Homo sapiens: one gene and its partners. The protein of the gene in region 7 purifies or fractionates together with the protein of the main gene of each other region. This does not show direct contact. Each region holds a gene or a part of one and is shown on either strand. Other genes may lie near its edges.

Region 1 (4,230 bases), on a different chromosome or scaffold from region 7:
TGGTGAAGAATAAACTGGAATCATACCTGTCATTGAATCCTAGATGACTGGGGAGGCTGTCACTGGGGAGGTCTGGAAGGTCTGCCCCCTTGAGGAGGGCGTGGTGGTCCCTGGGGCTGTCCAGCAGGAGGTGCCTGAGGCTGCTGGGGATTGCCTCCTGCTGGAGGTGGGGGACCTTGAGGATTGTTGCCTTCTTGTTGGGGTGGTCCTTGTGGCTTTCCTGGAGGAGATCGGGCACTTCGGGACTTGCTGCCTCCTTGTGGGGGTGGTCCTTGTGGCTTTCCTGGAGGTGGGGGACCTTGAGGTTTGTTGCCTCCTTGTGGGGGTGGTCCTTGTGGCTTTCCTGGAGGAGGTGGGGGACCTTGAGGCTGGTTGCCTCCTTGTGGGGGTGGTCCTTGTGGCTTTCCTGGAGGAGATCGAGAACTTCGGGACTTGCTGCCTCCTTGTGGGGGTGGTCCTTGTGGCTTTCCTGGAGGTGGGGGACCTTGAGGTTTGTTGCCTCCTTGTGGGGGTGGTCCTTGTGGCTTTCCTGGAGGAGGTGGGGGACCTTGGGGCTGGTTGCCTCCTTGTGGGGGTGGTCCTTGTGGCTTTCCTGGAGGAGATCGGGCACTTTGGGACTTGTTGTCTCCTTGTGGGGGTGGTCCTTGTGGCTTTCCTGGAGGTGGGGGACCTTGAGGTTTGTTGCCTCCTTGTGGGGGTGGTCCTTGTGGCTTTCCTGGAGGAGGTGGGGGACCTTGGGGCTGGTTGCCTCCTTGTGGGGGTGGTCCTTGTGGCTTTCCTGGAGGAGATCGAGAACTTCGGGACTTGTTGTCTCCTTGTGGGGGTGGTCCTTGTGGCTTTCCTGGAGGTGGGGGACCTTGAGGTTTGTTGCCTCCTTGTGGGGGTGGTCCTTGTGGCTTTCCTGGAGGAGGTGGAGGACCTTGAGGCTGGTTGCCTCCTTGTGGGGGTGGTCCTTGTGGCTTTCCTGGAGGAGATCGGGGACTTCGGGACTTGTCTCCTTGTGGGGGTGGTCCTTGTGGCTTTCCTGGAGGTGGGGGACCTTGAGGTTTGTTGCCTCCTTGTGGGGGTGGTCCTTGTGGCTTTCCTGGAGGAGGTGGGGGACCTTGAGGCTGGTTGCCTCCTTGTGGGGGTGGTCCTTGTGGCTTTCCTGGAGGAGATGGGGGACCTTGAGGTTTGTTGCCTCCTTGTGGGGGTGCTCCTTGTGGATTTCCTGGAGAACAAAGAGAGAAGAGAAAGACAGAGTAAAAGCCCATACAAGATTCCCTGAATAGTTGCAGTAAATTTTTATCAGTTTGGGTAACAAGCTGAGTGGGGAAACACACAAAAATGAGACCAAGACATTAATTTCTTTGCATTTCAGTGAAGACATAGAACTCTGGAGTGGAGCGCCAGGGAAGAACAAAGCAGTTGAGGGCCTCTCATTATAAAGAGGAGACAGAATGAGGATGCTGCCCATTTGTCTGTCATCTCCCAGCAGGCACTCCTGGCCAGGGGGATGAGGTAACCCACTCCTGCTGTCATCTAAGCCAAGCATCTCTGCCGTTCAATTTGGTGGCCTGCTCATGATGCCCAGAATCAAGGTTGCATGAAGAGTGCCTATATTATTAGGAGCACTAACATTAATCAATTCCCGAAAGGAAAGTTTTGATAAGAAGACACTGGAGAACTGATCCATTCATAAGCAGAAAAAGACAGTCAGAACAGATTGAGAATGAATCGGGATTTACCTGCTATTAGGGAGGGAGATTCTTCCTGGCTGACATCTAGAAGAGAAGCACAGGATGATGGGAACAGTTACATCTTGAACCTTACAAGACTCACAAGTGTTCTACAGGGAAAACAGACTTCTCACCACACCCCATGCATCCCCTAAGTTAACTCATCAGCCACCATCTGTGAAGCTGCTGGAAGGGGAGGAAGGTGTAAGGGGAGGCAGGGTTGTTATGACAGAGCAACAGCCATGAACTCAACATAGAAGAGCCCCTTTTTTCCCTCCCTAGCATCCCTCAAGACTTAATGCTAATTTAGTTCACAAATGCCAGGTACTTCAATGTGATATTTTGGTGTTCTTATGCCCTCCATCTCCTATAAATACATTGCTTATGTACACATGCTTTCTCAATTGGGGTAACCAGAAGTAATCATTTCAATACAATCTTACCCATACCACTCCCAGCACATTGAAATACTGCGTGTAAGGGAGAGAAAAATGACAATGATTGGCTCTGATATTTCTGTATCTCTAGTTAAACAGAGACAAGTGTTCCATCCAATTCTCTGTCTCTGCAGTATCTCTGATACTGTGTGTGTCTATCGCCGTCATCGATGCTGATGCACTGTACAGCAAGGCCACCATCATCCCTGTGTACTTACTGAGATCAGTTTAGGATCTTCACAGCTGGACTTCCATGAATCTGCCTTGCATTCTCTACTGCATCCTTCACAGCACAGTTCTATCTATAAATGCAAATCTTACCTTCTCATTCCCCTGGAACAAATTCTTTATTGGATTTCATTGTACATTAAATAAATTAGAAACTCTTATTGTGGAATGAGGGCACAACAAGTCTCCTGATCCTAGGCATGAAAACTCTGCAGCCCCATCTGTGTTTTCATTCTCCTCTCTTCCCCGTAATTACCATTATCACCTCCTAAGCCCCAAGCAGAGTCACCACATCTTCTCCCCCTTCTGTTTTACCTTCATTTAAGTTCTGAGCTGAGCTCAGGGCCAGCAAGGCCACTGACAGCAGAATCAACAGCATCTTGCAGGAGGCTCTGGAGTCACTCCCAACTCTGTGCTGGGAGGAACGTGGCAACTCCCTTTATAAAGAGGAGAAGAACAATGGCACCTTTGAGCTCCACACTGGGTGGGCCTCACCACCTCAGAGACTGGCTTCTGCTTTGCTCACTGCAGGTCAGGTGTTTCCTTTATTTTTCTTTGAGACTCTAGCCCAGAGAGATGAGTTGGATAGGATATGTTGTTAGTGTCTTATTTCCAAAAGGTACAACTATGACTTGAACAATGGTTTTGAAGGAACTGTGTCCAAGCCATCAGCACTGTGTCATCACTGAACTTTAGATATCATTAGAGTTTCAATCTTTTAGGTAAGACTATCATCCACTTTCCACTGTGCTATTTATTTCTGTTTATGTGTGTGTGAGCAGCGATGCTACAACCAGCAGTGAAGATGGTCAATATCTCTGGATATTATTATGCCCTATTTCCATCTCTTGTGATGTGTGTGTACAGATATTTTCATATTTAGCTCAATTTTTGATGTGATAGAGATGGTTTCTGCTATCTATGAGATGTGTGAGGACAGCACACTTCTGTGCACACATAGATGACAGAAAGCTGCCCCGCAGCCTGCTCAGGATAGGGCTATTGTTCAAGTTTCTGTGGATCTCACTCAGCTGAGGCAAGGCTTGGTCCTGTACAACACAGGAAGTCTAAAATTTTGTATTCTAAAGTAATTTTAGAGGTTATTAACGCAAAATGGACACAGAAACCACCAGGAAATTTCTAGACCTGAGAAAACTGAATACATAGTTCTGTGAGGGAGCCATGCGATGTCATGTTGCTAAAATTTCCTTCATGCTCTTCCCTTTCTCTAGAATATTCTATAAAATTCACCCACTGCTTCATTTCTTTTAGGAATTATATCGAATTCTTACCACTGATAATTAAGTGGCCACAATTCTACATTCAAATAAGATAATCAGATACCACCATCAAACCCTCAATTGCATTCTATTGGTTTTATTGGTTTAGTCAGTATTTGTGTTACCTGTTTTCTCAGATTCTTCTTCCACGAGTATTTTTCTACAATATTCTGATATGCATTCCTCCCCACGTTCTTTCTAGTACTTCTTTTACATATTTTATTTTCTGAGTCAAGCTCATTATGTGTATCTTTTATTATGTAGCTGGCTTTTCCCCATGAATTTGGTGAGATTTCCTTTATTTAATCTTTTAAGTAATAGGATATATACTCCTCACCATCTTTTTTCATTCCTGTCTGTGTAATTTCACAATAAATGTTGTGTTTCCAAAAAGCCCTCTCAGAGTCCTGCATTGTTAGCACTTCTTTTAGCTGCTGGTTCTTCTCTTATATCTGGTAAATCCCTGCTCATCAGTTCATGGAATATACAGGTTAGTCAGTATCAACAGCTGCCATTTACCACTTAGACCTTCTGTGTGTCTTGTGTAATTGTTCACATTTTGTGCAT
Region 2 (3,147 bases), on a different chromosome or scaffold from region 7:
TAAAGACTGAGTCATTTCCTTAAAACAGTGTTCTTTAACCTCCTCTTCTTCACATACAGCATATCTAATTCTTTATCACAACAGGTTTTATGGAGGTACACAGAATGTAGGATACTGATAATAGTTATGTCTTTATTTTCTTTGGAAAATGAAATGAGTTAATATTTATCAAAAAAAGTCAGTCAGATAGTAAATATCGTATTCCTGTGAGCTGTTATTATTATCATTGATGTACAAGACTAAAAATTAGGTAAGTATTCTCACAGGACAACAGGTAACTTTGACATTATGTTTCTTTCAATATTGTAGTGTATACTTTATCAAAAAAAGAATATAAGAATATTACCGATGAAGATAATAAGAATAAGAAAACGATTTTGAGCGTTTCATATAACAAATAGGACCAGGCGTGGTGGCTCTTGCATGTAACTCAGCACTTTGGGAGGCTGAGGCAGGAGAATTCCTTGAGGCCTGGAGTTTGGGACCATCCTGGACGATATAGCAAGACCCTGTCTCTAAAGAACAAAGCACAACAAGTCTAAAATAACTCAGAAATAGCTGAAAGCTAATTTTTATATAATATAAACTTATCGGTTAAAATGCTTTAAAGTCCTTATGCAAAATGTTTTTTTTTCCTAAATTTCTTCTAGGTAATTGATCTGGGTGGTGAGCCAATTAAAAGCAGTGACTACTTTGGTAATGGCCGGGTGACAGAATTCAAGTATGGTGCAAAACTCGGCACAGTTATTCGCAAGTGGAATGGAGAGAAGATGTCTTACTTAAAGTAAATAAATACAACTTTTCCCCTGAACTATTTCATAGATCTGTTAGTCATACTACCCCAGTGCGAGTTATCTTCTGGAACATTCTTATTCAGACAACTATTAAGGAGTCAGTTGTTAATGATAAGTATTCTAGTGCCCTAAACTCTAATCAATCATCTTTTGTATTTAGAGTGTCTGTCACAAGACAGTATGCCTAGGAACGCTAAACTTACCCTAGGAGTTTCTGTCTGCGTACAAGATGAATATACTGGATTTGACTGATGTTTGCATATAATCTTTTAAAGCCAGGTTATTATTAAAATGATCCTATCATTTATAAAGTATGTACAAAGTGTCCATGCTATTGTATTTACTTATACGAATTGGAAATGTAAAATGATTTATATTATAACAATACAATATTAAAGCCTTATTTTAATCTAGTTTGACATTCTGTATAATGTGATGTGGATATTGATCCTTCTGGAGTGCCTCTAAATGATAATGTGCTGAAACCTCTGAAAGGAAATTTTTTAATAACAAACATTTTATATTTGTAATATGAATATAAGTATTCCATACATGTATATACAAATATGGACTATATATATGTAGATTACACACGTGTGTTTGTTTATGAGGTGTGTGTGTATATATATGTGAGTGTGTGTTTGTGTGTGTGTGTGTATATATATATATCTTACAGAGTAACCATCTAATTAGAGAAAGAATTTAATCTTCAGATGCCATGCCTTACAGAAAGAGATGCACAGTAGAGTTACTCTCAAACTATTGTGAAATGATACATCAACGTATATCTTATGTTTCAAAAATAGGAACTGGGGAGAAGGTTGGGGTTTCATGCCTTCTGACAGAGCGCTTGTCTTTGTGGATAACCATGACAATCAACGAGGACATGGCGCTGGAGGAGCCTCTATACTTACCTTCTGGGATGCTAGGTAAAAAACCAAGTTCTCTATTTTTTTAACACCTCTTTTAATGATGGTATGAATATTGTGATATTCTATGATAATATAATTATGTAACTTTCAGGCTGTACAAAATGGCAGTTGGATTTATGCTTGCTCATCCTTATGGATTTACACGAGTAATGTCAAGCTACCGTTGGCCAAGATATTTTGAAAATGGAAAAGTAAGTTTTGGAGTTGTTCAAAATATCCTTTTCTCAAGAAAAAAGAGGCAATCTTCTCCTAATTTAATATGACAACTATTAAGTGTTTATTTATTCAACAAATATTTAATTATTGTAAACCTGATACAGGATTGTGATTTAGTAATGCAGGTTATATTAAAGGAATAAACTTTATATTCTCCATTGAAAAAGAATAGCAAGCTTTTTCAGAGATATGACAAACATCCCCCTAGCCCGCAGGGAAAATAAAAATAAAAATTAAAAAAACCACTTAAAAATAAGAGCTAGGCACAGGGATTAAAATATATACTTCGTACCTTCCTCAGGTTTAATTGGAAGAATATAGATGCCAACCCTTGTAGAGAACTTAAAACATCATCTGCCCGTAGTGAGAACAATATAAATGTCTTTTAAATACTGTTAAAAAGTTATATGGAATAGAAACAAATGATCCAGTTCAGCTGAGTTAAATAGGGAAAGTATACTATAAGAGGAAGGAAATTGTATGTACTAAAGGATAGAAATTTATAGAGAGTATTCCAAGAAAGGTAAGAATGAGAAAAATATTTGGGAGTATGGTAAAGACATCACTCTGCTGAGTAGTTTCAAAAAGGAACAGAGAAATAAGAGTGTAAAGATATTTGGAAAGCTAGTAGAAGGTTTTCTTTTAAACTAAAGGGTTGAGAAACAGCATCAGAGACTTCAGAACTAAAGCAGAAATTCCTCCTTCCTATGAGTCACACAGATATCTAGCTAGCTTTTTTTAGATTCCTTTCAGTTTGAGAAGTCCGCTACTATGTATAACAACTGATTCTATTGTTAAACAGCTTTAATATTTAGAAGGTGTACTTTTATATTGAGACAACTTCTTATAATTTCTACTAATTGGTCTTATTTCTGTTGTTAGGAGTCAGAGAGTTCTTTTATTTTTTCTATTACTATAACATTCCCACTTTGACAGGACTGCTGCATGCTATAAACTCTTAAGTTTTGTTCACTTTTCACCATATGACGTGATTTTAAGGTGAACACTGATAAACTTCCTAGGGTTACTCTGTGTTTTTTAATGAAGATTTCTTAAAGTGCCAATCAGAAAAGCATAATACTAAAAATATGGTCAATTTATAAAAAAAAAATGTTCAGATGTAGTATTTTGTACATTTATCTAAAAAGAAGCATGACGGCCTCCAATATTTATTTAGCATATGTCATGTTCAAGGCATTTTCACA
Region 3 (3,500 bases), on a different chromosome or scaffold from region 7:
GGTTAGGCACTGTTTCATGCTTTGGAGATATAGTAGTGAACAAGATAGATGAGGTGCCTGCCTACTTTTGTGAAGACAATAAACAAACAATAAATTAATTCAACAATTAGATATTGATAAGTGATATGTACATAACTAAAATAAGAGTGCTATTATACAGAATATTTGGGGGTACTTTAAGGAAAGGAGGTTTTGTGGTAGAGGGGACATTTGAACTTAAAATGGAAAAATAAGAAGGAAGTAGCCTTGTTAATTAGAGAATTTTAGCACAAGGAACAGTGCAAAGATTCCAAGATGAAAATCAGCTTGTCATGTTAGAGATATAGAAAAAGACCAACTCAGTTAGAAAATTGTGGACAAAGCAGGAGTAATACAACATAAAGTCAGAGATACAGACGGGTCAGATAATGATCTTCTAAATAAGGTGACATTTGTGCATTTTATTTTAGGTGTGATGAGACTAGATGATATTTTTTGGTAAGAGAGTGATCTAATATGGTTTGATTTTTAAAGATTGCTTTGTGCAATTGTTTATTAGTTTCAGACTAACTCTGAATACAACTAGAAAATGTGTGTGTGTGTGTGTGTGTGTGTGTGTGTGTTTGAAGGTATCACAGAGCTATCAAGATTGTGACAATTTATTGGGGCTTACATTCAGATTTAGAGGGAAATATAGTATTTGGGGAATTAAAAGACAAAATTTTCTAAAACTGATGAAAGATATCAAGGTACAGGTTCAAAACGATATTATAAACTCCAAGCAGGAGATATAAAAGAAAACCAAAGCAAGACATATAATAATAAAACTGCTGAACATTTGAGGCAATGAGGAAATCCTAAGAGCAGACAGAGAAACACTTGTATTACCTTCAAAGGAGCGACAATAAGATTGATACTTGTCTTTTCAAAAGAAACAATGGAAGCTAAAAGACGATGAAATGTTATATTCATCTTTCTGAAGCAAAATAAGTTATATGTTAACAGTGAAAATATCCACCAAAAAGAAAACATGTAAAGATATTTTCAAGCAAAGAAAAACAGAGCTAATCACCAGAGACCTACTGTAAAGGAAATATTAAAGGATAATTCTAGTTGGAAGCACAGAGGAGCAAGAAAGAATAAGAACAATGGAAAGAGCATATGTGTGGAAAAATATAGCTAGATATTGATTGCATAAAATAATAATAGTAATCTTTCAGGATTTAAGATAAATAGAATTAAAATACATAACAATCCCAGATAAGGCAGTGAGAAAATGGAGTTAAGTATTGTAGGATACTTGTATTATTTGGGTAGGGGTTAAAGTATTTTTTTCTTAATAATATACCCTAACAAATCAAGGATGCATGCTATAATTTTTAGGGCAAGGATGCAGATAATAATAAAAGAGTGTATAATTAATAAGCTTTTGTATAAAGATAATTAACTGGTAAATATTAACTTAATCCAAAAAAGTCAAGAATAGAAAAAGAAATACAGAACAGGTGAGATAGTAGAAACCAAGTAGTAATATTGTAGAGATGTAAACCAAATAGTTCCATAATAACTCTGAATATAAATAGAGTAAATATGCTAATTAAGGGACAAGGCTGTCAGACTGGATTAAAAAAAACCAACTGTATTCTGCTTATAAGAGACACACATAAAATGTGATTAAAATGATTGTAAATGAAAGGGTGGAAGAAAGAGATACCATTCAAACACTAAAAGAAAGCTGTTATTATTATATTCATATCTGTCAAGCAGACTTTAAGGCAAAAAATATTGCTAGAAGGAAATTTTATAATAATAAAAGATCAATTCTCCAGGAAGCCTCAAAATACATAAATAAAAATCGACAGAAGTATAAGGAGGACCAGGCAATCTACAATCATAGTGGGGTATTTAAATACACTTCTCTCAGCAACTGATAGAAGAAGTAAAAAATATGTAAGAATGTAGAATATTTCTACAAAATTATTAATAAAACATCAACATACATTGAACACTACACCTAACAACTGCAGAATATCCATTCTTTTGAAATTGACCATATACTGGGCCATAAAGCAAGTTTCAATAAATTTTAAAGGGTTGAAATCATAGAGTTTGTTCTCTAACACAGTGGAATGAAGCAAGCATTAAATAATAGGAAGATAACTAGAAAAATCTTTAAGTGTTTGAAAATTAATGACTTCTAAATAATCAATGGGTCATTGAATAAATTACAATGCAAAATTAGAAAATATTTTGAACTAAATGAAAATGAGAAAAATATGAAATAGCATAACTTGTGGAATACATTAATTCCATGCCTAATAGATATTTATAGCCTATATATATATACACACACACATATATACATATATACACTCACATATATATGTATATAAACACATACATATATATATGAATGATATCTCTTTTTCCCATCCTTTCATTTTCAATCACTGTTATCATTTTTTATGTGTGAATCTTATAAGCAGCATACAGTTGTGTGTGTATATATATGTATATGAAAGACTGAAAAATTAATTACCTAAGCATATATTTCAAGAAGTTTTAAAAAGAACAAATTAAGCCCTAAGAAAGTATAATGAAGGAAATAATAAAGATAACTAAAATTAATAAAAGAGAAAGAAAATTTAGAGAACCAACAGTGCCAAGATTCAGCCTTTGAAAAATCTAATAAAACTGATAACCCCTGCAAGATTAATCAAGGAAAGAAGAGTAAGTACCAATATCAGGAAAGTAAAAGGGGACATTGCTATCGAGGTTTTAGACATTAGAAAGATGACAAGAGCATATTATAAAAAACATTATACCAGCTAATTTGAAAATTTAGATGACATAGAAGAAATGTCTAGAAAAACACTTGTTACCAAAACTGAACCAACAATAAATAGAAAACCTAAATAGTACTATGTTTATTAAAGAAATTGAATCTTAAATGCATTCATTTCCAGTGGGGGAGAAACTGCAGGTCAGATGGCTTTACTGAATTCTATTCAAAGTGAAAGAAAGAAATAACTATAACATCACATAGATTATTTCAGAGAAATGAAAAACAGGAAACACCCATTTTATTAATCCAAACTGGCCTCAGTACCATAACCTGACAACGATATAAGAATCAAAATTTTCAGGACAATTCCTTTCATATAGATGCAAAACTCTGAAAGAATATAATAGCAGACTGAATTCAGTAGTATATAAAAAGAATATATGTTATTCCTAACTACATTTTATTCCAAAATTCATTTTTGGATTAACATTTGAAAACCAACCAATTAAGTACTGAAATAGAATAATGGGGAAAATTATATGAACCTCTCAATAGATGAAAAATTGATAAAATCCAATATTAATTCTGATTAATAAATAAAAGATTATGTCTTTGAAAAATGTCATAGCAAAAATTATATTTAATGGTGAAATGAAAGCTTTCATCTCCAAGTTTGGGAATGAAACTAGTATGCCTGCATCATCCTATTGATATATACTATGTATAGTATCATCCT
Region 4 (3,500 bases), on a different chromosome or scaffold from region 7:
TAGATCCATGTTGACCGTAGCCAGAGGACTGTCCTGAGCGAGACTCTCGGTGACCTAAGCCAGAAGAGTGACCGGAGCCAGACTCATATGGGCCACGGCTGGAAGACCACCCTGAGCCAGACCCATATGGGCTGTAGCTGGAAGACTGCCCAGAACCAGACCCATGTCGGCCACGGCTAGGGCTAGGAGACTGGCCAGATCCAGACCCATGTTGGCCGTGGCCCAAAGACTGACGGGAGCCAGACCCATGCTGACCATAGCTGGAAGATGAACCTGAGCTAGATCCGTGTCGTTCACCCCTAGATGACTGTCCTGACCTAGAGCCGTGTTGTTCGTAGCTGGAGGAGTGACCTGAGCCAGATCCATGCTGAGTGTAACCAGAGGACTGCCATGAGCTAGACTCGTGGTGACCAAATCCAGAAGACTGACCTGAGCCAGACCCATGTCGGCCACTGCTGGAAGACCAACCGGAGCCAGACCCATGTTGGCCGTAGCTGGAAGAGTGCCCGGAACCGGACCCATGTCGGCCGCGACTAGGAGACTGGCCAGATCCAGAGCCCTGTTGGCCATAGCTAGAAGACTGACTTGAGCCAGAGCCATGCTGACCGTGGCTGGAAGACTGACCTGTGCTAGATCCCTCCTGGTCAAAGGTTGATGACTGTCCTGATGTAGAACCATGCTGTCCTTGGCTACAGAAGTGCCCTGAGCCACTACCATGCTGACTGTAAGCAGAGGAATGTCCTGAGCCAGACTCATGTTGACCAAAGACAGAAGAGTGACCCGAGCGAGACTCATATGGGCCACGGCTGGAAGAACGACCTGAGCCAGACCCATGTTGGCCGTGGCTGGAGGAGTGCCCCGAACCGGACCCATGTCGGCCGCGGCTAGGGGAATGGCCAGATCCAGACCCTTGTCGGCCGTGGCCCGAAGACTGACGGGAGCCAGACCCATGCTGACCATAGCGGGAAGACGAACCTGAGCTAGATCCGTGTCGTTCACCCCTAGATGACTGTCCTGATCTAGAGCCGTGTTGTCCGTAGCCAGAGGAGTGACCTGAGCCAGACCCATGCTGACTGTAACTAGAGGACTGCCCTGAGCTAGACTCGTGGTGACCAAAGCCAGAAGACTCGCCTAAGCCAGGCCCATGTTGGCCACTGCTGGAAGACCGACCGGAGCCAGACCCATGTCGGCCATAGCTGGGAGACTGCCTTGACCCAGACCCACGCTGGCCGTGGCCTGGAGACTGGCCAGATCCAGAGCCCTGTCGGCCATAGCCAGAAGACTGACTTGAGCCAGAGCCATGCTGACCGTGGCTGGAAGACTGACCTGAGCTAGCTCCATGTTGGCCACAGCTCGATGACTGTCCTGATGCAGAACCATGTTGCCCATGGGTAGAGGAATGACCTGAGCTAGATCCATGTTGACCGTAGCCAGAGGACTGTCCTGAGCGAGACTCTCGGTGACCTAAGCCAGAAGAGTGACCGGAGCCAGACTCATATGGGCCACGGCTGGAAGACCACCCTGAGCCAGACCCATATGGGCCGTAGCTGGAAGACTGCCCAGAACCAGACCCATGTCGGCCACGGCTAGGGCTAGGAGACTGGCCAGATCCAGACCCATGTTGGCCGTGGCCCAAAGACTGACGGGAGCCAGACCCATGCTGACCATAGCTGGAAGATGAACCTGAGCTAGATCCGTGTTGTTCACCCCTAGATGACTGTCCTGACCTAGAGCCGTGTTGTTCGTAGCTGGAGGAGTGACCTGAGCCAGATCCATGCTGAGTGTAACCAGAGGACTGCCATGAGCTAGACTCATGGTGACCAAATCCAGAAGACTGACCTGAGCCAGACCCATGTCGGCCACTGCTGGAAGACCAACCGGAGCCAGACCCATGTTGGCCGTAGCTGGAAGAGTGCCCGGAACCGGACCCATGTCGGCCGCGACTAGGAGACTGGCCAGATCCAGAGCCCTGTTGGCCATAGCTAGAAGACTGACTTGAGCCAGAGCCATGCTGACCGTGGCTGGAAGACTGACCTGTGCTAGATCCCTCCTGGTCAAAGGTTGATGACTGTCCTGATGTAGAACCATGCTGTCCTTGGCTACAGAAGTGCCCTGAGCCACTACCATGCTGACTGTAAGCAGAGGAATGTCCTGAGCCAGACTCATGTTGACCAAAGACAGAAGAGTGACCCGAGCGAGACTCATATGGGCCACGGCTGGAAGAACGACCTGAGCCAGACCCATGTTGGCCGTGGCTGGAGGAGTGCCCCAAACCGGACCCATGTCGGCCGCGGCTAGGGGACTGGCCAGATCCAGACCCTTGTCGGCCGTGGCCCGAAGACTGACGGGAGCCAGACCCATGCTGACCATAGCGGGAAGACGAACGTGAGCTAGATCCGTGTCGTTCACCCCTAGATGACTGTCCTGATCTAGAGCCGTGTTGTCCGTAGCCAGAGGAGTGACCTGAGCCAGACCCATGCTGACTGTAACTAGAGGACTGCCCTGAGCTAGACTCGTGGTGACCAAAGCCAGAAGACTCGCCTAAGCCAGACCCATGTTGGCCACTGCTGGAAGACCGACCGGAGCCAGACCCATGTCGGCCGTAGCTGGGAGACTGCCTTGACCCAGACCCACGCTGGCCGTGGCCTGGAGACTGGCCAGATCCAGAGCCCTGTCGGCCATAGCCAGAAGACTGACTTGAGCCAGAGCCATGCTGACCGTGGCTGGAAGACTGACCTGAGCTAGCTCCATGTTGGCCACAGCTCGATGACTGTCCTGATGTAGAACCATGTTGCCCATGGGTAGAGGAATGACCTGAGCTAGATCCATGTTGACCGTAGCCAGAGGACTGTCCTGAGCGAGACTCTCGGTGACCTAAGCCAGAAGAGTGACTGGAGCCAGACTCATATGGGCCACGGCTGGAAGACCACCCTGAGCCAGACCCATATGGGCTGTAGCTGGAAGACTGCCCAGAACCAGACCCATGTCGGCCACGGCTAGGGCTAGGAGACTGGCCAGATCCAGACCCATGTTGGCCGTGGCCCAAAGACTGACGGGAGCCAGACCCATGCTGACCATAGCTGGAAGATGAACCTGAGCTAGATCCGTGTCGTTCACCCCTAGATGACTGTCCTGACCTAGAGCCGTGTTGTTCGTAGCTGGAGGAGTGACCTGAGCCAGATCCATGCTGAGTGCAACCAGAGGACTGCCATGAGCTAGACTCGTGGTGACCAAATCCAGAAGACTGACCTGAGCCAGACCCATGTCGGCCACTGCTGGAAGACCAACCGGAGCCAGACCCATGTTGGCCGTAGCTGGAAGAGTGCCCAGAACCGGACCCATGTCGGCCGCGACTAGGAGACTGGCCAGATCCAGCCCCATGTCGGCCATAGCCAGAAGACTGACTGGAGCCAGAGCCACGGTGGCCATAGCTGGAAGACTGGCCTGTGCTAGATCCCTCCTGGTCAAAGGTTGATGACTGTCCTGATGTAGAACCATGC
Region 5 (3,500 bases), on a different chromosome or scaffold from region 7:
TAAGAAAAAACTGAGTAAATACACCCAGACTGAGAGCACCTTTTAGACTTATTTGTGTCAGTGACGCCCAAAAAAAAGGACTCACACCATTTTATTCAAAACACTTATACACCTGTAAACACTGGGAAGTCCCCTCTGTGCCTCCGTGAATCACTGTCTTGTAGATTTTCCAACACAGAGCAGAGAGTTAAGTTTCTGGGGAGATATCAGGCTCTGTCCTGTCTGGAGGTCGAGAGCAAGACCGGGCTGTGTTTATTGCTCCCTGTGAGGTCACAGCCCCATGCGAGAGGCTGAGCTATTCTCAGGTACCCTCTGGGAGTCTGTGAAGAAGGAGGAAAACCACGAGGGACTGGGATCAGGAAGAGCAGCTGCTTCCTAGGCATCAGAGGCAATATTGGGGCATGGAATAAGATGTAGACGTGGGGTGCGATCAGCCTCAAAGAAGGACCCAGAAGTCAATGTTTGAGGAGGAGCTGAGGGCCCCAAACCAGATGATCAGATAAACTGGGCATACCTGCCTGTCTTAACATGGGACCCAGGCAGGGGGTTAGAAAGAGAGAGCGAGGCTGTCAGCAGGAGGTGGGCCTTAGAGTTGCTGCCCTGATGCCTTTCCAGGTGCACAGCTTTATTGAGGTTTCTGCTGAAGAAGAAACCAAGCCTAATACAGTTCACCGGGGCCTGAAGGCGGGTGAGGCAGCTAGGAGCATCCCACCATGGTGCCCTGGAGGCAGGTGAGGAGGTGGGGGGAGATGATCAGCCTCTACCTTCAGCAGATTCACTCTATAAAGGTTTCTGTAAATTCTGTGAGGGTGAACCTCAGTGCTTAATAGAAATGATTTCCTTTTACCTTCAAAAGAACTCTATGACTCAAACTATGATTATCTTCCTTCTGCATATTAGGAAACTGAGAGAGGATACGTGACTTACCCAACGTCACAAGGCTAACAAGTGTTGGTACAGGAATTTGGACCCAGGTCCATGTGACTCCAGACCTCATTTCTTAAGCCCACACATACTGCCCATGGCCAGAAGAGGTACATGAGGACATGCTAGAGATAAAATCTGTTCGTATTTTGGGTGAAAGGGCAGCCATACTACCACAGAGTGCATTTCCAATCCTGGGCCCCTCCTGCCTTGACCTTACCACATACTCGTCGATGAACTGCCGCAGGTCCCTGAAGCCGTGTTTCTCAGCGATGGTGTTGGGGTAGTGGCCATGCTTGTTGGCCACGCTGTACGCCTGCAGGGCTCCTGGGCAGGTGAGCAACAAGGCAGTGAGGTTCTTCAGTCCATACTTCGCAGCAAAATGCAACAGGGTGGGCAGCTCTTCATCCCTCTGATCTGAAAATTATCAAGGAAAACTTAATAGGCAGATAAAAATAAAGGCACAGGGTGCCCTTGTTCATGGAGATGAAGCTGCCAAGACTAGCATGGCAACAGAAAGCACTCAGCCATTACTTATTGATTGACTGACCTAACATCTAACAGCTTCCTTCAGGACACCACTGAAGATCATGTCCTCAGATGCAGAGGACATAATTTTTTTTGTTGAGATGGAGTCTCACTCTGTCACCCAGGCTGGAGTGCAGTGGCGCGATCTTGGCTCACTGCAACCTCTGCCTCCCAGTTTCAAGTGATTCTCTCGCCTCAGCCTCTCAAATAGCTAGGATTACAGCTGTGCATCACGCCCAGCTAATTTTTGTATTTTGAGTAGAGATGGGGCTTCACCATGTTATCCAGGCTGGTCTCATACTCCTGACCTCAAGTGATCCACCTGCCTCGGCCTCCCAAAGTGCTGGGATTACAGGCATGAGCCACCATACCCGGCCATAACATTTTAATTAATTAGCAAATCTAATAATGAATACCCTACCATCTTCTCTAACAGGACTGGAGAATCCTGAGAAAAAGTACCAGTTCAAAATGTGCCGGGTTTGTTTAAAGGCTTAACTAGCAGCCACACAGTACAATAGGAATCATGTTTTGAACTTCTCTGCAAAGTTCAGAGCATGTATTTCTTAAAGCTATTGTTTCGTGCTGATTAAAAGAAAGCAGTTCATCCTCTTAGCCCTTATTCCTAATTTCATGATAAGTACACCAAGTAATCCTGGGTATGTTCCTTAGACTTTCCGCTGCCTTTAGTTCTCAACCAGAAAATACTTCCAGACTATCTCAAAAGGACCTGGGAGGATAAGTAAGATAGTATTCAGCAGGGTTCCTATTTAGGAGAGATTTTGAATGTTGGTCTTAATGCACACAAGCCCCACCAGGACGTCAGTTCACTCTCTAATTGGTGAAAAGCAAAGTACTCCAGAGAGGTGCTGGGTCCCCACGGACCCCCTCCACCTACTGACATCTGAATACAGCAAGTTAAACTCAACCAAGAAAATGGACATGTTTGTGTTTGCGGAGCTGGGGACAAATCTCTTTTTTCATAAACGTTTATTTTTAAGCCCAACAACTTTATAGACATACATTTATATACAAATGTATATTTTTTAACATGACAAACCCAGCCTTCTATTCCAAATATGACCTTGGAATGAAGGGTCTGAAAATATTCCCAGGATCTCAAATTGTCAGGCTATGAAATACTTTCTTCTAAGCCCCAAACTTAATAGAGAATAGTCACATCTACAAAAGTGCTGCAAGAACATTCCATAGTAGGAAAATGGGGAGAGGCAATACGAAAGAGAGTCCCCCAGGAGAAGGCCTCGAAAGTCATGTAAACTCACCCTTATGGTTCTCTTAGACTACAGAAGGATGGAACGTAGGCAGAAGGTAACCAGAGACTTGGGTCCCATTTGTGTAGTGCAACCATGGCATGAAGGAACGGTGGTGTCCACAGAAACACTACAATAGGCATCCTGTCCAGAACACCAAGCATCATCCCCGTGCAAGGGGTGTGACTCTCTCAGCTCCCAGCATGTCACATGTGCACAAGAGGCTGCTCCTCCCTCATTAAACAACTACTTGTTTAGAGCCTACAAAGAGCCAGCCACCCAGGAGCAGTTCCAGCCCTCACTGAGCGGACAGCCTAGCAAAGAAGACAGACACAGCTGAGGAGTGCTAGGTCAATGGCACCCAACATGCTGGTGGTCGGGGGGTGCCAAAGCAGGTGAATGGAACCTACTGGAGGTTTGGAGAAGGTCTTCTAGGGAAGTGCTACCTAAGCTGCTACAGGGAAGTGAGAGAAGTTAGCCAGGTAAACAGCAACCAAGGCAGGAAGGAAGGACTATCTTTCCATGAGTCTAAGTGGCAAGAGACAGGTGAAAAAAGCTCATACCTCCTGCAGATCAAAGCATAGAAAAGACAAGAGGGAGTGTGGAGAGAGATGAGGGCTTGTTCACAGGTTAAGCAGTTTGGATTTTATCTAGAAGGCAACTGGGAACCTCCCCTGACAGTACTTAGCTTACCTGTTCCTCATGCTATCCCTATGAGGAATAATCATAACAAGCTCCATTGGCTTACGCCAAACCAATTTAAAATCACTCATTTCC
Region 6 (3,500 bases), on a different chromosome or scaffold from region 7:
TGTCCCCAAGGAGACATTTGGAAATTTCTAGAGACATTTTTAGTTGTCACAACTTGGAGGGGATGACAACTAGTGGGTAGAGGCCAGGGATGCAGCTAAACATCCTACTGTGCATAGGACAGCATCCAGACAAAGAATTATCCAGCCCAAAATGTCAGTACCACCAAGGCTGAGAAACTCTGACCTAACCTAACCCTGACCTGAGCTGTTCTGCTTAGGGAGAAGGTCAAACATTTGACTCACTTTTCAGGGCAGTGCTCCAAGATTATTGAGGACATTTTTGTCTTGTTGACCACCCCTTAATACTCTTGAGGAATGACAATGCCTTTGAGAAATGTTAACTCCTATGAATAACCGTTCCCTGCTCCTGGCTGCATTGCCAATCTAGAGCCCAGAGAGGATGGAAGACTTTCAGCTCAGAGACTCCCAGCAGGCACTGCCAGGGGAGCCTGTTTCTCACCGGAAAGTGTCCCGGGGAACCTCTGCATTTTATCCCACAATTCCCCATCCTTCATTTCTATCAGCAGGTCTCAATCCTGGCTACACAGTAGAGTCCTCTGGGATACTAGGACCCACCCAGACCAGTTACTTCTGAATCTGGGGTAGGGCCTAGCCATTAGTATTTTTTAAAGGTTTCTCAGGTTCTGATGGCTCTGATGTGCAACGAGGGTTGAGACCCATGGATTTACACTGAAAAAGATTTCAACATTTTCCCTCCCTCCCTCCCTCCCTCCCTTCCTTCCTTTCTTCCCTCCCTCCCTCTCTCTCTTTTTCCGTCCTTCCTTCCTTCCCTTTCCCTTCCCCTTCCTTCCTTCCTTCTTTCCTTCCTTCCCTTCCCAATCCCCTTCCTTCCTTCTTTCCTTCCTTCCCTTCCCCTTCCCCTTCCTTCCTTCCTTCTTTCCTTCCTTCCCTTCCCCTTCCTTCCTTCCTTCTTTCCTTCCTTTCTTCTCTCTCTCTTTCTCTCTCTCTCTCCTTCCTTCCTTCCCTCTCTCTCTTTTTCCTTCCTTGCTTCCTTTTCTCCCTTTTTTTCTCTCTTTCTTTCTTTCTTTCTCTCTTTCTTTCTTTCTTCTTCTCTCTTTCTTTCTTCTTTCGAGTCTCACTCTGTCACCCAGGCTGGAGTGCAGTGGTGCAATCTCGGCTCACTGCAACCTCCACCTCCCAGGTTCAAGCAATTCTCCTGCCTCATCCTCTCTGATTCTCCTGCCTCATCCTCCCGAGTAACTGGGATTACAGGCGCCCACCACCATGTCTGGCTAATTTTTGTATTTTTAGTAGAGATGGGATTTCACCATGTTGGCCAGGCTGGTCTCAAGCTCCTGATCTCAGGGGATCCTCCTGCCTTGGCCTCCCAAAGTGCTGGGATTATAGGAGTGAGCCGCCACGACCAGCCTAGCTAGATTTTTTTCCATGCATCTTATGGAATACTCACAATTATATAAAGCAAGTCATTCCATCATCCCCATTTTATTTATTTATTTATTTTTAATTTTTTTTTTTTTGAGATAGAGTTTCTCTCTGTCGCCCAGGCTGGAGTGCAGTGGCGTTATCTCAGCTCACTGCAACCTCCGCCTCTTGGGTTCAAGTGATTCTTCTGCCTCAGCCTCCCAAGTAGTTAGGATTACAGGTGTGCGCCACTGCGCCCAGCTAATTTTTGTATTTTTAGTAGAGACGGGGTTTCGTCATGTTGGCCAGCCTGGTCTCAAGCTCCTGATCTCAGGGGATCCTCCTGCCTTGGCCTCCCGAAGTGCTGGGATTACAGATGTGGGCCACTGCGCCTGGCCTCAACATTTTCTAAATGAGCTCCTACCAGACGCTCACCTCTTAAACGTGCTATGCCTTTTCCCTTCATGCCAAATAAAATATTTCTATGACCATCATATCAAATCCAGTGAATGTAGTGGATTTGCTGATGATAATGGGATGCCGGCTTTCACACATTGTTCTTTCTACTTAGCTTTTCACCATTAAAGACAGATACTATGCAAGGAGCATTGTATAATTCCAAGTTTTTGTCATCTTTTCTACTGGAAAATATATTTTTAACTATTAAAGTGTGATGCCAGATAAAATATGATTTTGCTGGAGGCTGGGAAGAAAATCTACAGCTGGGTCCTACTTTATGAAATTCCCACCTTGAAACAGATAAATAAAATTATTCAAAGAAACAAAATTTTCTTTCTTACATAAGAAAATTCCAATGTTATGAAGTTTTTCACTTTTGGATTCCCTTTAAAAAACTCCCTGGATACGTACCTTTGCTAAAAGGTCGGAGTCTCAACATTCTACCTATAAGAAGCCATTGTCTTGAACTTTGAGATCACACAATTCATTATATTCATTGTTCATTATATTCATTATATCACACAATTCATTAATTCATTATATTGGTTCCCTCCCTTCTCATCTCTCTCTGTCTCTCCCCATTCTCTTCCAAAAAAGTACTGGAGAAAGGTAGCTTGAATTGGGCTGAATCAGTATTGCTTCTGAAATTAACCTTTTAAGATCTTATTTGAGCTTTATTTAGTTTTTGATTATTCACTTATTTTTCCCTGGCCTCTTTAATATGTAGATATTTCGACTATTAAAATAATGGATCTTCCTTTGACTATACATGCTACTCTTAAGCTTTACTAGTGCAGAAGCAGAAGTTGAAAATCATAACTCCAGCTTATTAGAGAAACAAACGTAATAGTATATTGTACAGTTGATGTATATTTCACAAAATGGAGATTAAATGTTTTACTGTATTTTTCTTGAAGGTAAGGACATGGAAGCCAACTTGGAGAAAAATAAAAATCTCCATTGTTTTAAAGTACTCTTAATAAGAATCACATTGTTTATATAAAGCAGTGTTATTTATTTATTTAGTTTTTGAGACAGAGTCTTGCCGTCATGCCTAGGCTGGAGTGCAGTGGCACAACTGTGACTCACTGCAGCCTCAACATCCTAGACTCAAGCGATCCTTCTGCCTCAGCCACCTGAGTAGCTGGGACCATAGGGGCACACCATCATGCCCAGCTATTCTAATTTTTTATTTTTCTGTAGAGATGGGTTTCTCTGTGTTTTCCAGGCAAGTCGCAAATCCTGGGCTCAAGTGATCCTCCCGCCTCGACCTGCCAAAGTGCTGAGATTACAGGTGTGAGCCACTGGCCCTGGCCTAAAATACTGTTTTAAATATTGCTACTGTCATTTTAAAGTACTCTTAATAAAATCACATTATTTAAAAAAGGATTTGCTGGAATGTTTTCGTAAATTATTAAACCCAATGTACCTATTTAATAATTACAAGTATTGTATAATGACTTTGAAACATAGATCTGATTTAAAGGCTGACACCAAGAGCAGCCTCTTAAAAATACTAGTGCATGTGGATGGAGGTGGGAAGGCAATCTGCAAAAGATCAAAGCGCTCCTGGGTGAAAGTAAAAGGATTATGGATTTTTTTTCCCCAAATTTTTTCATTTATTACATCATCTTTTCAAAGAAAAAAGTCGCCAGGCA
Region 7 (2,790 bases):
TTTCTTTTGTTGTGCAGAAGCTCTTTAGTTTAATTAGATCCCATTTGTGAATTTTGGCTTTTGTTGCCATTGCTTTTGGCATTTTCTTCATGAAGTCTTTGTCCATGCCTATGTCCCGAATGATATCACCTAGGTTTTCTTCTAGGGTCTTTTTTTGGTTTTGGGTTTTTCATTTAATTTTCAATCCATCTTGAGTTAATTTTTGTATAAGGTGTAAGGAAGGGGTCCAGTTTCAGTTTTCTGTATATGGCTAGCCAGTTTTCCCAGTACCATTTATTGACTAGGAGATCCTTTTCCCATTGCTTGTTTTTGTCAGGATTGTCGTAGATCAGATAGCAAGCAGAGACCTGCATCATGAATGAACTCCCATTCACAATTGCAACAAAGATAATAAAATACCTAGAAATACAACTAACAAAGGATGTGAAGGACCTCTTCAAGGAGAACCAAAAATCACTGCTCAAGGAAATAAGAGAAGATGCAAACAAATGGAAAAACATTCCATTCTCATGGATAAGAAGAATCAATTTCATGAAAATGGCCTTACTGCCCAAAGTAATTTATAGATTCAATGCTATTCTCATCAAACTACCATTGACATTTTTCACAGGATTAGAAATAAGTACTTAAATTTCATAATTATCTACAGAAGAGCTCATATACACAAGACAATTGTAAGCAAAAGGAACAAAGCTGAAGGCATCACACTACTTGACTTCAAACTACCCTACAAGGCTACGGTTACCAAAACAGCATGGTACCGGTACCAAAACAGACATATAGACCAATGGAACAGAACAGAGACCTCAGAAATAACACCACATATCTACAAAGTCAGAAGCATCTATATAAATCAACACACTTCAAAGAGCTAACCCACGCTACATTTCTTAAACTGGAATGATTGTTGGCTTAATGGCTTTTTTTTAATTTTTCCTTGTTTTAACTGTCAGTGTTGATACTTCTAGAAAGAAAAGTAACTAGAGTCAGCTTACCTCCATAATCATGCCCCGTGATTACTGAAGATATCAATTGTCATACAGATAATTTGATCTATAGCCTCGATGTGAATGATGCTTTTCCTGCATACACACAAAAGGAGAGAGCAAATTGCAGAGAATAGAGGCAATGACAGTAAAAATGCTTCACAAAAACTGTCACTGAAAGCTTAGATTGTTAAAGTTGTTATGACCTCGTGTGTTATCTACATAAATGTTTTCAAATTTTTAGTTACATTTTTCTTCTTTCAGAAAAATGTTTAAAAGCAAGTAAAAATGATAAAGTATTTACTGTGTGTTGATATTTTTGTGGCAATAATAAATGTTGGAACACTGATTATAGGCAACCTCTCCAAACAGGTTTTAAATCTTCTTAACAACATTACCTCCAAGTTACTATTTTGCCCAACATTGAGTATAACGGGGAGGAGAAAGTTACCGTTTCCAACTTAGGTGGTGTTTCTTCATCTTATTCTTTTAATGAGCTTACTTTCTCTTACAACTCCTACATTCTTTCATACCCACTGCTGTTAACACAAACAGTCCTCATTCCTTTTTATGCATCATTTTACTTAGTGCTTTTTTAACACATATACTTGCTATATTAGTAAGCAGAACTTTTGAACCCCTATTCATACTGATATTAGAGGTCAAAATAATATGATATTTTTATACATACATTTAGAAAAATGTTAAATAAAATTTTCTGTCTAATTTAGCACAGTAAGTTTAATTTAAAGACTTTATCATCCTCAAATATTATAAGATAGAAACCACATTACATGGGTAGCCTCTATGCTTCATTAGGCATATGTTATACTTCATAGAATTAGGAATTATTCATAGAATTAGGAACTATTCTTTAGGTCAATGTAATTATTTATAAGAGAAAGATACTTAAGCTCTCAAAGAATAATTGAAAATTGACTTATTCAGAGTGTAATTGAGTTTCCGTTGAAATGCTGTTAGAACACAAGATTTTTGTGACCTTTTACCTCTGTAACAAGAATAAATGAAATCAATGTACACTTTAGCAATTAATGATATAAATATATTTGAGAGATAACTATCAATTATTCTAGGAGAATAAATAGTCAGAGAAGAAAACTTATTCAGAGTGCACATTATCAGAAGAACACTTACATGGAATTTTCTTTTATACCCATGATGTCTCTATGAAATAAAAAGAAAAGATTAAAAATTCAATATATGATTAATTATCAAGTTTTCCAGTAAATGAAAATGTCTTACCTTTGCATGTGAATCAGCTCCCTTGGAAAAGAAGAAAATGAGAAAATAATTAATATCTTAATTTCATAATTCAAGAATATGTGTAAAAATTGACTTAGCCACATTTATGATTAAATAGAATGGAGGCATTCTTTGGATGATGACATGCTAAATTAGTTATTTTAGCTTTATGACATCTTTAAAATGAGTGAAGGGTAAACTTCTCTATAATTAATATGCTATATTAAAGTATCAACTCATTTTGGTTTATATATCTTTTTTATGAAAGGCAAGAAAAGTCTATCATTGGTGAATAAGAGAGTGGAAACTGAAAAATGAAACATTGGATTGTTTTTTATATGAATATGTTCTATGTAGCTCAAAAGCTACCAACATACAAATATTTTATTTGCTGATAGAGACAGGCATTGTGCTTTTCTCTGTTCTTCTTATATGTTTATTTTTCTACTTCTATCCTTCTATAATAAAATCATGTGATAAACTGTGATGCCATAACCAATTTTGTTTTTGAAACATTCATTTGAATTTAGTGGATAGGTTG

What was found.
Region 1: the proteins of HTN3 (region 7) and PRB2 purify together in Homo sapiens (affinity purification with mass spectrometry, with the first as the bait; one study listed by BioGRID). This does not show direct contact.
Region 2: the proteins of HTN3 (region 7) and AMY1A purify together in Homo sapiens (affinity purification with mass spectrometry, with the first as the bait; one study listed by BioGRID). This does not show direct contact.
Region 3: the proteins of HTN3 (region 7) and FLG purify together in Homo sapiens (affinity purification with mass spectrometry, with the first as the bait; one study listed by BioGRID). This does not show direct contact.
Region 4: the proteins of HTN3 (region 7) and HRNR purify together in Homo sapiens (affinity purification with mass spectrometry, with the first as the bait; one study listed by BioGRID). This does not show direct contact.
Region 5: the proteins of HTN3 (region 7) and PIK3AP1 purify together in Homo sapiens (affinity purification with mass spectrometry, with the first as the bait; one study listed by BioGRID). This does not show direct contact.
Region 6: the proteins of HTN3 (region 7) and BPIFB1 purify together in Homo sapiens (affinity purification with mass spectrometry, with the first as the bait; one study listed by BioGRID). This does not show direct contact.

The regions. Positions count from the first base shown.
Region 1 is NC_000012.12:11,392,768-11,396,997, forward strand, and holds the start of PRB2 (basic salivary proline-rich protein 2 preproprotein), read right to left. Parts: upstream 2,801-4,230; 5' UTR 2,763-2,800; coding exon 2,699-2,762; intron 1,764-2,698; coding exon 1,728-1,763; intron 1,211-1,727; coding exon 60-1,210; 3' UTR 27-59; intron 1-26.
Region 2 is NC_000001.11:103,658,760-103,661,906, forward strand, and holds part of AMY1A (alpha-amylase 1A precursor), read left to right. Parts: intron 1-650; coding exon 651-784; intron 785-1,600; coding exon 1,601-1,723; intron 1,724-1,817; coding exon 1,818-1,917; intron 1,918-3,147. UniProt on the Homo sapiens protein: Calcium-binding enzyme that initiates starch digestion in the oral cavity.
Region 3 is NC_000001.11:152,318,740-152,322,239, forward strand, and holds part of FLG (filaggrin), read right to left. Parts: intron 1-3,500.
Region 4 is NC_000001.11:152,214,194-152,217,693, forward strand, and holds part of HRNR (hornerin), read right to left. Parts: coding exon 1-3,500. UniProt on the Homo sapiens protein: Component of the epidermal cornified cell envelopes.
Region 5 is NC_000010.11:96,647,515-96,651,014, forward strand, and holds part of PIK3AP1 (phosphoinositide 3-kinase adapter protein 1), read right to left. Parts: intron 1,342-3,500; coding exon 1,145-1,341; intron 1-1,144. UniProt on the Homo sapiens protein: Signaling adapter that contributes to B-cell development by linking B-cell receptor (BCR) signaling to the phosphoinositide 3-kinase (PI3K)-Akt signaling pathway.
Region 6 is NC_000020.11:33,293,214-33,296,713, reverse strand, and holds part of BPIFB1 (BPI fold-containing family B member 1 precursor), read right to left. Parts: intron 1-3,500. UniProt on the Homo sapiens protein: May play a role in innate immunity in mouth, nose and lungs. Binds bacterial lipopolysaccharide (LPS) and modulates the cellular responses to LPS.
Region 7 is NC_000004.12:70,031,459-70,034,248, reverse strand, and holds part of HTN3 (histatin-3 precursor), read right to left. Parts: intron 2,271-2,790; coding exon 2,250-2,270; intron 2,172-2,249; coding exon 2,142-2,171; intron 1,083-2,141; coding exon 1,029-1,082; 3' UTR 996-1,028; intron 1-995.